2 linked regions of the Homo sapiens genome follow. The protein of the gene in region 1 purifies or fractionates together with the protein of each later gene. This does not show direct contact. Each region holds a gene or a part of one and is shown in the gene's direction. Other genes may lie near its edges.

Region 1 (5,767 bases):
TAAACATAGAATTACCATATGATCAGGCAGCACTACTCCTGGACATACGCCCAGAAGAATTGAAAGCAGGAGCTGCAAACAGATATTTGCACATCTATGTTCAGAGCAGCATTATTCACAATAGCCAAAAGGCAGAAGCAGGCCAGGCACAGTGGCTCACACCTGTAATCCCAGGACTTTGGGAGGCCGAGGCAGGCGGATCACTCCAGATCAGGAGTTTGAGACCAGCCTGGCCAACATGGCAAAACCCCATCTCTACTAAAAATACAAAAGAAAAAAAAATTAGCCAGGTGTGGTGGTGGCACATGCCTGTAATCCTGGCTACTCGGAGGCCGAGGCAGGATAATCACTTAAACCCAGGAGTCAGAGGTTGCAGTGAGCCAAGATCGTGCCACTTGCACTCCAGCCTGGGTGACAAGAGCGAAACTCTGTCTCAAAAAAACAAAAAACAAAAACCTTTTAGATCCGCCATCTGTGGTGGAGCCGCCACCAAAATGTAGATTTTCCTGAAAACCCTTACAGGGAAGACCACCACCCTCGAGGCTGAACCCTCAGATATGGTAGAAAATGTAAAGGCCAAGATCCAGGGTAAAGAAAGAATTCCTCCTGATCAGCAAAGACAAGCACTGGAAGATGGGCGTACTCTGTCTGACTACAACATTCAAAAGGAGTCTCCTCTTCATCTTGTATTGAGAATTCGTGGTGGTGCTAAGGAAAGGAAGAAGTCTTTTTTTTATTTTTTTTGAGATGGAGTCTCGCTCTGTAGCTCAGGCTGGAGTGCAGTGGTGCAATCTCGGCTCACTGCAACCTCTGCCTCCCGGGTCCCAGTTCAAGCAATTCTCCTGCCTCAGCCTCCCGAGTAGCTGGGATTACAGGCACGTGCCACCACGCCCAGCTAATTTTTGTATTTTTAGTAGAGACAGGATTTCACCATGTTGGCCAGGCTGGTCTTGAACTCCTGACCTCGTGATCCACCTGCCTCGGCCTCCCAAAGTGCTGGGATTACAGGCCTGAGCCACTGAGCCCGGCCAGAAGAAGAAGTCTTACCTGCAAGACGAATAAGCACAAGAGAAAGAAGGTGAAGCTGGCTGTCCTGAAATATTATAAGGTGGATGAGAATGGCAAAATTAGTCACCTTCGTCGAGGTTGCCCTTCTGATGAATGTGGTGCTGCAGTGTTTATGGCAAGCCACTTTGACAGACATTATTGTGGCAAATGTTGTCTGACTTACTGCTTCAACAAACCAGAAGACAAATAACTGTATGAATTAACAAAAGACGGCCAGGCGCAGTGGCTTACACCTGTAATCCCAGCACTTTGGGAGGCCGAGACGGGCGGATCACAAGGTCAGGAGATCGAGACCATCCTGGCTAACATGGTGAAACCCCGTCTCTACTAAAAATACAAAAAAATTAGCTGGGCATGGTGGCGGGCGCCTATAGTCCCAGCTACTCGGGAGGCTGAGGCAGGAGAATGGAGTGAACCCGGGAGGCGGAGCTTGCAGTGAGCCGAGATCGTGCCACTGCACTCCAGCCAGGGCAACAGAGTGAGACTCCATCTCAAAAAAGAAAGAAAACCCACAAAAGACGTGAACTAACAAAAACAAACAAACAAACAAAAAAACAAAACAAAAGCTGGAAGCAACCCAAGTGTCCATCGATGGATGAAGGAATAAACACAACGTGGTTCATCCACACAAGGGAATGTGATACAGCCATGGAAAGGAAAACAGTTCTGACTCAGGCTACAGCAGGGATGAACCTTGGGGATATTATGCTCAGTGAAATAAGCAGATACAAAAGGACAAACACTGTGTGATTCCACTCCTAGGAGGTCCCTAGAGTCATCAGATCCATAGAGGCAGAAAGCAAGATGGAGGGTGCCAGGGGCTGGGGAGAGGGATAGGGAGTGAGTGTTTCATGGGGACAGAGTTTCAGTTTGGAAAGAGGAGAAAGTTCTGGAGATGGACGGCAGTGGTGGCTACATAACAACATGAATGTGCTTATTGCCACAGAATTGTGCTCTGAAAAATGGTTAAAATAGGCTGGGCATGGTGGCTCACACCTGTAATCCCGGCACTTTGGGAGGCTGAGGCGGGTGGATCACTTGAGGTCAGGAATTTGAGACCAGCCTGGCCAACATGGTGAAACCCCATCTCTACTAAAAATACAAAAAATTAGCCGGGCATGGTGGTGCACGCCTGTAATCCCAGCTACTCGGGAGGCTGAGGCAGGAGAATTGCTTGAACCCAGGAGGTGGAGGTTGCAGTGAGCCAAGATTGAGCCACTGTACTCCAGCCTGAGCAACTGAGTGAGACTCTGAAACAAAGAAACAAACAAAAGCAATGGTTAAAATGGAACAAGATGGTGCATACCTGTAGCTTCAGCTACTGGGGAGTCCAAGGTGGGAGGATTACTTGAAGCCAGGAGTCTGACACTAGCTTGGGCAACATAGCAAGACCCCGTCTCAAAAAAAAAAAAAAAAAGGCCGGGCACGGTGGTTCACGCCTGTAATCCCAGCACTTTGGGAGGCCAAGGCGGGCAGATCACAAGGTCAGGGGATCGAGACCATCCTGGCTAACACGGTGAAACTCCATCTCTACTAAAAAAAAAAAAATACAAAAAATTAGCTGGGCGTGGTGGCAGGCGCCTGTAGTCCCAGCTACTTGGGAGGCTGAAGCAGGAGAATGGCGTGAACCCAGGAGGCGGAGCTTGTAGTGAGCCGAGATCGCGCCACTGCACTCCAGCCTGGGCGACAGAGCAAGATTCCGTCTCAAAAAAGAAAAAAGTAAGTTATAATGGTAAGTTGTATGTTATATGTATTTTACCACAAAAAGGCCCGTTGTACTGGAAACAAAGAACAAATAAAAATGTAATAACCATTCCAAGCTCATGGGTGGTCCAAGAAGAAACATGAGCTGGACCTTGGCCCATGAGCAATGGCTTTCCAACTTCTGTTGCAGGTGATGCCATTGATGGAATAAACCATGATTTTTCTTTCTTCTTTTTGAGATGGAGTCTTGCTATGGTGCCCAAGCTAGTCATCCAGGATGGAGTGCAGGGGCACGATCTCAGTGCACTGCAACCTCCACATCCCGGGTTCAAGTGATTCTCCCACCTCAGCCTCCCAAGTAGCTGGGATTACAGGCACACGCCACCACGCCCAGTTAATTTTTGTATGTCTAATGGAGACAGGGTTTCATCATGTTGGCCAGGTTGGTCTCAAGCTCCTGACCTCAAGTGATCCGCCCGCCTTGGCCTCCCAAAGTGCTGGGATTACAGGCGTGAGCCACCGGCCATAAACCATGATTTTATTTACCAGTTCTATTGCTCATGGGCATTTGGGTATGAATGTGGTATGTCATTCTCACCCAGAGACATAATTATTATTACTATTTTAGAGAAGTGGTCTTGCTCTGTTGCCCAGACTGGAGTGCAGTGCTGTGATCATAAGTCACTGTAGCTTCGAACTCCCGGGCTCAAGCAATTCTCTCACGTCAGCCTCCTTAGTAGCTGGGACTACAAGTGCTTGTCCGCACCATGCCTAGCAAGAGGCATTAATTTTGTCATGTTTGCATCAGCCACCCTTGCATGCAAAACTCTGCTTGTCTACCTGTTCCTCAGACCACAGCCCCTGGCATTATCCCTGGGGCACCACCTCCTGACCAGTCTCTGGACATGAAGACGGAGGCCCTGTTGGAAGTGGGAAGGCTCCCTTCCTCCTCCAGCCCTTACTGTCTGCTCAGGGGCTTCCTCTTGGCCCCGGATGTGGGACCGGAGGGTTGGGGGCCCAGGGACTTATTAGCCAAGCCAGGAAGCCCCACCCCAAGAGGCCTCAAAGAAAGAGCTGCGGTGCAGGAATTCGTGTGCCGGATTTGGTTAGCTGAGCCCACCGAGAGGGTAAGTGACAGCTGCTCCTGCGCTTGCCATGGCACCAGCGGGGAGGCTGGGGTCAAGGCTGAGCCTCCATCCCTGTCCCCCACATGGGGGGACAGGGGTCCAGGTCCAGGGGCAGATCCTACTCCCTCCATGGGCCGGATCTTCCCCACAGGGCAGGGCTGATCCAGCTGTGGGTCTCTTGGTTCCCTCTTTCAGCGCCTGCAGGATGAAAGCTCTCTGTCTCCTCCTCCTCCCTGTCCTGGGGCTGTTGGTGTCTAGCAAGACCCTGTGCTCCATGGAAGAAGCCATCAATGAGAGGATCCAGGAGGTCGCCGGCTCCCTAAGTGAGGACCCCCCACTTGGGCAAGCTCCCCAAGGGTCTCAGAGACCTCACTGATCCCTGGCACAGACCTGACTCCAACCCAGCCCCAGCGCTCACCAAATCTCATCCTCAAATCCAACCAGATCATAAATTCAACCCCAACTCCACTCCCAACCCCTCCGACTGTCCCCACCTTATCCACGGCTCCAAACCCAATCCCCGCTCTCACTCCAAACCTTCCCTTACTCCAAAACACCCAACTCAAGACAGGGTCCTGGAGGCCAGTGAGCTCCTATGCCCACAGGGACCTAGCTCCAAACCAACAGGGCTAGGGGAGGATGGGGGAGGGACCGTTTGGTCTCACAGCTCCCCCTGTCTCCTTTCCTCCTGCCCCCCAGTATTTAGGGCAATAAGCAGCATTGGCCTGGAGTGCCAGAGCGTCACCTCCAGGGGGGACCTGGCTACTTGCCCCCGAGGTGAGTGCAGGAGACTGTTGTCCAGGCGCCCATTTCTGTTCCAAGTCCCCTGGGAATGCCCCCTCCCCGCCACGTTCCCCGTGTCCAGCCTCTACTCCCCTAGGATCTTGGTCCTGACTCCCAGCCTTCTCCGCCCACCATCTGGACACTGGTGTCCACCCTCACTCCCTGCCTCCAGTGCCCATTCAGTGGTTGGAGCCTCCAGCCGTCCCCGTCCCCACCCCCGCCCCCCCAACCCCCCTCCGCGCTCCCCACCCCCCTCCCGCTCCCACCCTCAGCCTCCCAGCTCAGAGTCCACGCTCCTGTGTTCCGGGCTGCAGGCTTCGCCGTCACCGGCTGCACTTGTGGCTCCGCCTGTGGCTCGTGGGATGTGCGCGCCGAGACCACATGTCACTGCCAGTGCGCGGGCATGGACTGGACCGGAGCGCGCTGCTGTCGTGTGCAGCCCTGAGGTCGCGCGCAGCGCGTGCACAGCGCGGGCGGAGGCGGCTCCAGGTCCGGAGGGGTTGCGGGGGAGCTGGAAATAAACCTGGAGATGATGATGATGATGATGATGATGATGATGGAGCGGATCTGAGCCCTGCGTGGTTTCTTTAGTAGGCCCGGAGGGACTGATCTAGCGTCTCCAAGAGAGTGGGGCGCGTAGCTGCTGGAGGGGGCGGGGACACCGCGACTTTCTACTGCCCCATCGCCCTTCCTCCTATGGGGTCTCCAACTGCTTCCTCCGAAAATAGGGCCTGAACTTCCTCTAGTGACGTCCCCACCCAAGGCTCATGGCTGCCTTCAAGAGGTGACGTCTCATCTTTGAGGCTACCTTGACGCTCACCCTGGGGTCTCCGACCTCCCCAGGAAGTGGCTGGGTCCTTTTCCCCCAGTCCTCATAATGAGGCTTCATCGAGGACCTGGGTCAGTCTGGGCAGTGGACGGGACCCTCCAGGGCCCCAAGACTCCAGGAGCCCCAGGTCAGGGTGGAACCCTGAATCATGTCTCAGCCCAGAGCTGGAACCTGTACCCCTCACTTCCTACCTGCAAGGAGGAATCCCCAAGGCACAGGCAAAGTTGGGTTACGGAGAGTCAGGGACGCCTACCTG
Region 2 (7,024 bases), on another chromosome or scaffold:
GGCATCCACTCCCCTGCAGCCCTGCCGTCTCCGCTGCGGTGTCCCGAGCAACTCCCCAGGGACTGCGAGGAGGCTGGGAAGGGGCGCCCGTGGGCTGCCTGGGCTGCCTGTCCTGGTGGACCTGGCCAGGGGCTACCTGGAAGGATCCCAAGCCCCTGCAGCACACACTGTGGCTGGGCCTCCAGCCCATGCCCCTGAGGGCCGTGCTCCTCACCCCTTAGTCAGAATCTCAGGGCCCACCCTTGCCCTCTCATGTCATCTGTACAATGGCTGAGAGGAGTTCTCCTGTCCCGTTACCAGTGGGGACACAGAAGCCCAGAGACAAGGCCAGGAGGTCAGCAGACTCAGGGCATGCCCTGGCACCCCCCCAGGCCTGATGAGGTGTGACTTCTCTAGGGGGACAGTTTCTGAGGGAGGGCACAGCCCAGCAGATCATCTTGGCACAGCACAGGACACACACTGAGGTGGCTGCAGGCCAGTTTCTGCAGGATAAGAAACTGACGCCCAGGTGGAGGGTGGGCTGGGGAGCATGGAGGGGCCTGGGGCCAGGCCCCCTGAGCCTGCAGGGTTGCGCTACCCCCAGCCCTGTCTCCACCAGCTGTGGGCAGCCAGGCCCAGAAAGCCAGGCATGAGTCCCCAGCCCCACAGGCCTGGAAGCCTCCTGGGCACTGGAGCCATGTCCGAGTGCCCTGAAACCCCCAGGGGTTTTGCCCCGTGGGAGGGAGTGGGGGCTGCACCAGCAGCTTCTGCCGTCTCCTTGCTGTGCTAGAAACAACATCCAGGGAGGACAGATGAGCTGGGCCCTGAGAACAGCAAGTGTGGCTGCTTTCCCCCAGCAAGAGACTGTGGCAGGAGGAGATTGTGGCTGAGGCACAGCGGGGCCTGGGAAGGCTGTCAGGTAGCCAGAGCCAGATAAGGGGGCGGCCTTCATCCCCTCTTCATGCTGATAGGCCTGGTGTAGAGAGAACGGGGCCAGGCCGCAGCAATGGGCAGCTACTGTCCCAACTTCCAGGCACTGGGTGAAGGCAGGGGCTGTTTCTGGGCGTTTCCAGCTTCCTCTGCTCCTTGGGAATGCCCAGGGGCCACAGATTCCTAAGCAGGGGAGACCTCGCTGTTTCTGGAACTTGCCCAGGGCCATCCTGCCAATTAGGGATCAAGACAGGACTTGGAGCCGCAGCCTCCCAACTCCCAGAAAGAAGTTTGCAGTGGGCCAGACCGAGGTTCCTGGGGCCCACCCCAGGCACATGTGGTCACCTCAGGAGCCTCTGGTGGGTGCGTTGCTGGGCACCAGGCCGTGACGTATCAGGGAGCAGAGGAGGTCCCAAGTAGGAGCCGTTTATCAGTGGGGAGGGTCGTGAGGGGCATGAGGAGCGGCCGGGTAAGGTTCTCTGCGGTGGTCCCTGCAGCCATGAAGCTGGGGTCCCACAGCAAAGGACTTGGGGCCATGGCCTAGCCCAAGCCTTGCAGAGCGGGGAGACCAGGCGGTGGGAACAGGCCACAGTTCCTCATCTCCCAGGACCTCTGTGGTCCCCACGGAGATGCAGATCAGGAGCTGGGCTGGGCTTGGGGGACTGAGGGTCCCCACACAGCTTCTCAGGGATTGTGTTGTGCCCCAAGGCCACGCCCACCAGAGCCAGCACTGCCTGGGCCGGTTCTGGAAGGTTTACCCAGGGGTCCTGCGAGTGGAGGGGCAGTCTGGGCAGGAAGAAGTGAGGGAGGGGAGGCCTGGGACCCTTGGGGGCTTGCAGCCCTGTGGGGGTTACTGAGTGCCCAGGCTGTTAGGGAGGACCCCATGGGCAGGGCAGGGCCACCCCGCGACAGGCACAGCATCTTTCCACATGGAGCGCCTGGCCTTGGCACCTGAGATCTGGACTCTAGGTTCCCACAGACCACCCCCCAGCGCCTAGCTTGCTCCCCTAACTCACCCTGGTCCAGGCCCGGGCACACAGCACTTGCTGTGCCATTTAATACACAAAGGCCCTTCCAGCCAGGAAAGCACCCACCTGCCGCCTGTCCCCAGACGTGTACAGCCACCTCACCTCCACTTGGAAGACCAGCCCCAGCAGGTGGGCAGCCCTGGTGTTTCTCCAGTTCGGGCCACACTGTCCCTGTGTCACAGCACAGTGGGAGGGCACTGGCCAGGTGAGGGGTGGTGAAACTGAGGCAGGGGTACTTCTGCATAGAGCCAGCAGGGTGGGGAGCAGGGTCTGGGTGTGCACCCTGTGGAGACCTGGCACAGCCTGGGCACAGCCAGCAGGTGGCAGGTGACTGAGCTCTGCAGAAATGGCCCGAATGTGGGCAGGTGTCAGGATCCAGGGTTAGGCAGTGGAATGACAGTGACCCATGCAGCCCACACCTGACCCTAGGCCACCCCCATCCTCCCCTAGAGAAGGTCCTAGGAAGTGCTTTGCTGCCTGCACAGGGCAGTTCCCAGGGAGCTGGGGGCCATCCTGAGTCGGCTTGTTCCGCAGCAGGGTAGAGACGGTGCACACCACCTGGCGTTGCTTGACTCTGAGGGTGTCTCCGGGCACCCCTACAGCTGGCAGCGGCTTTGGCGTGCTTCCTATCTTGGTAATGTCACTGGCCCTCTTAAAGTGACAGCCCGGGGAACATCCTGCCTGTCAGTGCCAGGGCATGGCCCCAGGAACAAAGCTGGAATCGGGGTCACTTTCTTTCTCAAAGGGCTGCCAGGTCCTCTCCAGTGGTGTCCCAGCGCAGGGCAAAGGTGGCAAGGCTGTCTCAGGTGATGTCCTCACCGCCCCCTCTGTAGGAGCATGGCGCTGGAGCCTGCCCTGTATTTGGCCATCTGTGGAACAAGCCAGCTCCCCTGGCTGCCAGGGGATGGTGACATGGTGCCCCCAGGCCTGTCTCCACAATGGGGAGGGTATCCGAAAGACCCAAAGATGGTTTGGGACCCCCACATCCTGCTTTGGGGCAGCCAAGCAGTTCTGGACCCTCGGCTCTCGAGGAAGGGACGTCGCACAGCCGCCCCCACCTGCTGAACTTCCCAGCCCTTCATATCGGGCCTCCCCTCACTCCTCAGCCTGGGTTCGGAAGGTCTCCCAGGGGCCGACCTGAGGGCGGGAGGGCGTGTCGGGTGAGTGAGTGGCTGGCTGGACTGGGGAGGTCCCCCCTCCATGGTGGGCCAAGCTGGTCACCCCACCGCAGCTGGGGCAGGCCTGCCTGAGGCTGGAAAGCCCCATGAAAAGCTCACAGCCAGGCACTGTTATGAACGGGGTGTCACAGCCAGGCACTGTGTTATGAACAGGGTGTGGACAGGAGCCTCTGCCCACCCCAGCCCTGCGTCTTTCTGTGCCCATCTCTGCATTGTCATTGCTGGGGACACCCAGATTCGGCCTCACGGGGCTAAGAGACACACCCGTCCTTGAGTACAGCCCCCAGCCACCCTCTCTGCTGTGGGCAGAGGGCAGGTGAGGCACCAGGGTGGCACAGCACTGAGGGGGCAGGTGAGGCACCAAGGTGGCACAGCACTGAGGAGACAGGTGAGACCCCCAAAGGGGCCTGGTGCCCCTGCTGGCGTGAGGAGAGCTGACCACTGGCCTCGGGCAGTGGAGCCCACGCCCCTCCCTTTTCAGTCTGTGCTCCTTGAGCATTAAGGCCATCCCCCCACCCTGCCCCCACCAAGTCTTGGGTGGGAGGGGGGTCTTGGTCCTGGGTGCCCAAGCCTGGTGTGCCCAGGGGTGAGGGGCTCATAGATGGGCCCAGCCCATTCCTCAGGCTCTGCCTGAGGAAGCCAGGGGCCAGTGCGCTGGGCCTGCTGGAAGCAGCTGCCTCTGCTGTTTCTGGGCGCTCGTCAAGGACAGCAGAGAGCCCCGGAGGGACAGAAAGGTCTGGGGCCAAGGCAGGAAGGCTTTGTGAGGTACGGGTGTGGGAGCCTGCAGGGCCAGCACTTTGAGAGGCCGGTCCAGAGCAGCACTGCAGGATGCTGGGGCATGGAGGAGGGTGGGCCACAGCCCACCAAGGTGACAAAGCCGCCTTCAACGGCAGGAGGGCCGCTTCAAAGCTCCCCCAGGTTTTGGCTCTGCTTACTGGGCTGAAGGGGAATGAGCTCCCAATGCTGGCCCCTGGAGGAGGAGGCTCTTGAACCGAGCTGGGAAGGAAGGTAAAGGGCATTCGTGGCTAGAGAAGCCCAAGCAGCGGGCCTGCTGTTGGGATTGGGAGGGCCAGGAGGTGTCCTGTGTCAGGGCCACAGCCCGGGAGCACGTGGCGGTCAGAGAGGAGCGGAGGCAGTGGTCCAGAGGGTGGAGGTGAGCCCCAGCCTCCCTGACCCCCAGGCTCCCCTGGCTCCAGCCCTAAGGTGCTCTCCCAGCCGTCCGACCTGGATCTCCAAGACGTAGAGGAAGTGGAGATCGGCAGAGACACCTTCTGGCCCGGTGAGTGAGCAGAATCGGGTTACTGGGGGACCAGAGCTCTGCGCGTGCCAGGCTCCTCACAATGCCCACCTCTGTGGCACCCCCAATGCTGGCACCACCCCCTTCCTGGGGCCCCTTTTCTTCCCTGGCATCAGCTCACCTCTGCCCCGTGGCCCCTCCCCCACTCTAATGCCAGTCCAGTTACTGATGCTTCCCGAGGCGGTGACTGCAGCCCACAGCCACCTGCGCCAGTGGCCCCACGTGGACTCCTGCCGGCCCCAGCTGGACACAGTGAATCAGGAACTCCTCCCTCCCCTCCACCTGCCTTGGGCTGGGGCTTCTGGCTCAGGGCACCACTGTCCCCCCAGATCCACGAGTTATCCTGTGTCCCCTCCTCCTCCTGCATCCCCTAGATGGCCTCCCCTCAGCCTGGTTGGAGCTGTGTCCAGGTCCCCTGCACCTCCCCCTTGAGAAGCTCCCAGGGTTCCCTCTGGGCGATGTTAGTGATATGGCTGGATTTAACAGTGCTGAGCCCTCGCCCACATCTGGGCGGCCCTGGGGTGGGGAGCAGGTGTCTGAGGTCAGGTCCCTGGAAAGAGACCCTGGGCCAGAGATTTGCGTGGGAAGCTCCTGGGGTGGGCATGGGAGCTGGGCGGCAGCACACTTGCCACCGAGGCCTGGGGCAGCCCCATGAGGAGCTGTGCCCATATGGACCACATCCTCGGCAAGGGCTTTGAGGCGCCCTCTGGAGCTCTGGCGTCCCCCAGGCTCCGGGTCCTCACCAACACTTAGTGCTTCCTCCTGGCTAAGGGTGACCCCATGGTCTGTCTTGCCACTGTGGCTCCGTGCACCGGCACGGCCGCCGTGGTGACTGTGGATGGTCCCAGCAGCTCTGGGTCACCCTGCAACGCCCCCCACCCCTGTGTCTATGTCAGCTCTCCTGGGCACGGCACTCCGAGCCCCTGTCCGCTTGTCTCCCATCCACTGGGTGCCTGGCCCCTCCTTGTCCCCTCTAAGCCCCCCCGTCCAGCTCTGCTCTCACTCCCCGTCCCCGTCCCTCCGTGCCACGGTGGGGGCATGCGGGTACTATCCGCCTCTGCCGTTTCTCATTTCAGACTCCGAGCCCAAGCCGGAGCAGGCTCCACGCTCTCCTGGCTCTCAGGCCCCTGACGAGGGGGCGGGCGGGGCGCTGCGCAGCCTCCTGAGGAGCCTTCCCCGCAGGGCCCGGTGCAGCGCCGGCTTCGGGCCTGAATCCAGCGCGGAGCGGCCGGCGGGCCAGCCGCCTGGGGCCGTCCCTTGCGCCCAGCCGCGGGGCGCCTGGCGCGTGACGCTCGTGCAGCAAGCAGCGGCCGGGCCCGAGGGTGCGCCCGAGCGGGCTGCCGAGCTGGGAGTCAACTTCGGTCGGAGCCGGCAGGGCAGCGCGCGGGGGGCCAAGCCGCACAGGTGCGAGGCCTGCGGCAAGAGTTTCAAGTATAACTCGCTGCTCCTGAAGCACCAGCGCATCCACACGGGCGAGAAGCCCTACGCCTGCCACGAGTGCGGCAAGCGCTTCCGCGGCTGGTCGGGCTTCATCCAGCACCACCGCATCCACACGGGCGAGAAGCCCTACGAGTGCGGCCAGTGCGGCCGCGCCTTCAGCCACAGCTCGCACTTCACGCAGCACCTGCGCATCCACAACGGCGAGAAGCCCTACAAGTGCGGCGAGTGCGGCCAGGCCTTCAGCCAGAGCTCCAACCTGGTGCGCCACCAGCGGCTGCACACGGGTGAGAAGCCCTACGCCTGCAGCCAGTGCGGCAAGGCCTTCATCTGGAGCTCCGTGCTCATCGAGCACCAGCGCATCCACACTGGCGAGAAGCCCTACGAGTGCTCCGACTGCGGCAAAGCCTTCCGCGGCCGCTCGCACTTCTTCCGGCACCTGCGGACCCACACGGGCGAGAAGCCCTTCGCGTGTGGCGCCTGCGGCAAGGCCTTCGGCCAGAGCTCCCAGCTCATCCAGCACCAGCGGGTGCACTACCGCGAGTAGCCGGGCGGGGGCTCGGGGCTCGGCCTCCTACCTGCCCCCAACCCACCCTCCACCCCGTCCCCCACGGTGGGCACTGCCCAGCACCGCATGCCACGTGTCCGGAATAAATTCTTTTTGATTGTTGGAAGTGGGAGCCGGCACCTGCCTGGGTGAGACCTTGGGGCAGCTTCCTGTCCCCGAGGACCCGCTGCGGGATGGGGGTGATGGGGCTGCTCCACCAAGACCTGCCATACAGGGCCACGGGGTCCCTGGGGTCTGGCGGGCGGCCCGAGTGTCGTAGGGGAGGATCTGAGGCCTGGAGGTGTCCTGACTTGCCCAAAGCTGATACCCCACCATCAACACGGGAGGCGGGGGGGGCGCGCCCAGAGCAGGGGTCGAGGACGGGGCCAGTCTAGAAGTGCTCACAGGCCTGGCCAGGCTGCCTGTCTGCCACCTGGGTGAGGGGTCTCTGGCAACTCGGTTCCCTTATGTATTTGGGAGGCCTCTGCTTCTGTAAATGCAGCAGGCTTCCCCACGTGCCCTGTCAGCTCTGCTGCCTCCATTCAGTGGGGGGCCTGCTGGGCAGCAGTGGCCCGGGCTTCCTCTGCACCAGCCCCTTGCCCTGGGGTGTGGGGGCCCAGGGTGTTCA

What was found. The genes of interacting proteins can lie anywhere in the genome.
Region 2: the proteins of RETN (region 1) and GLI4 purify together in Homo sapiens (affinity purification with mass spectrometry; 2 studies listed by BioGRID and IntAct, with this or other methods). This does not show direct contact.

What each region holds. Positions count from the first base shown.
Region 1 is NC_000019.10:7,665,223-7,670,989, forward strand, and holds RETN (resistin isoform a precursor), read left to right. Parts: upstream 1-3,826; 5' UTR 3,827-3,899; intron 3,900-4,050; exon of another isoform or gene 4,051-4,094; 5' UTR 4,095-4,104; coding exon 4,105-4,222; intron 4,223-4,598; coding exon 4,599-4,676; intron 4,677-4,954; coding exon of another isoform or gene 4,955-4,996; coding exon 4,997-5,127; 3' UTR 5,128-5,233; downstream 5,234-5,767. UniProt on the Homo sapiens protein: Hormone that seems to suppress insulin ability to stimulate glucose uptake into adipose cells. Potentially links obesity to diabetes. Promotes chemotaxis in myeloid cells.
Region 2 is NC_000008.11:143,270,409-143,277,432, forward strand, and holds the end of GLI4 (zinc finger protein GLI4), read left to right. Parts: intron 1-4,295; coding exon 4,296-4,394; intron 4,395-5,488; coding exon 5,489-6,396; 3' UTR 6,397-6,523; downstream 6,524-7,024.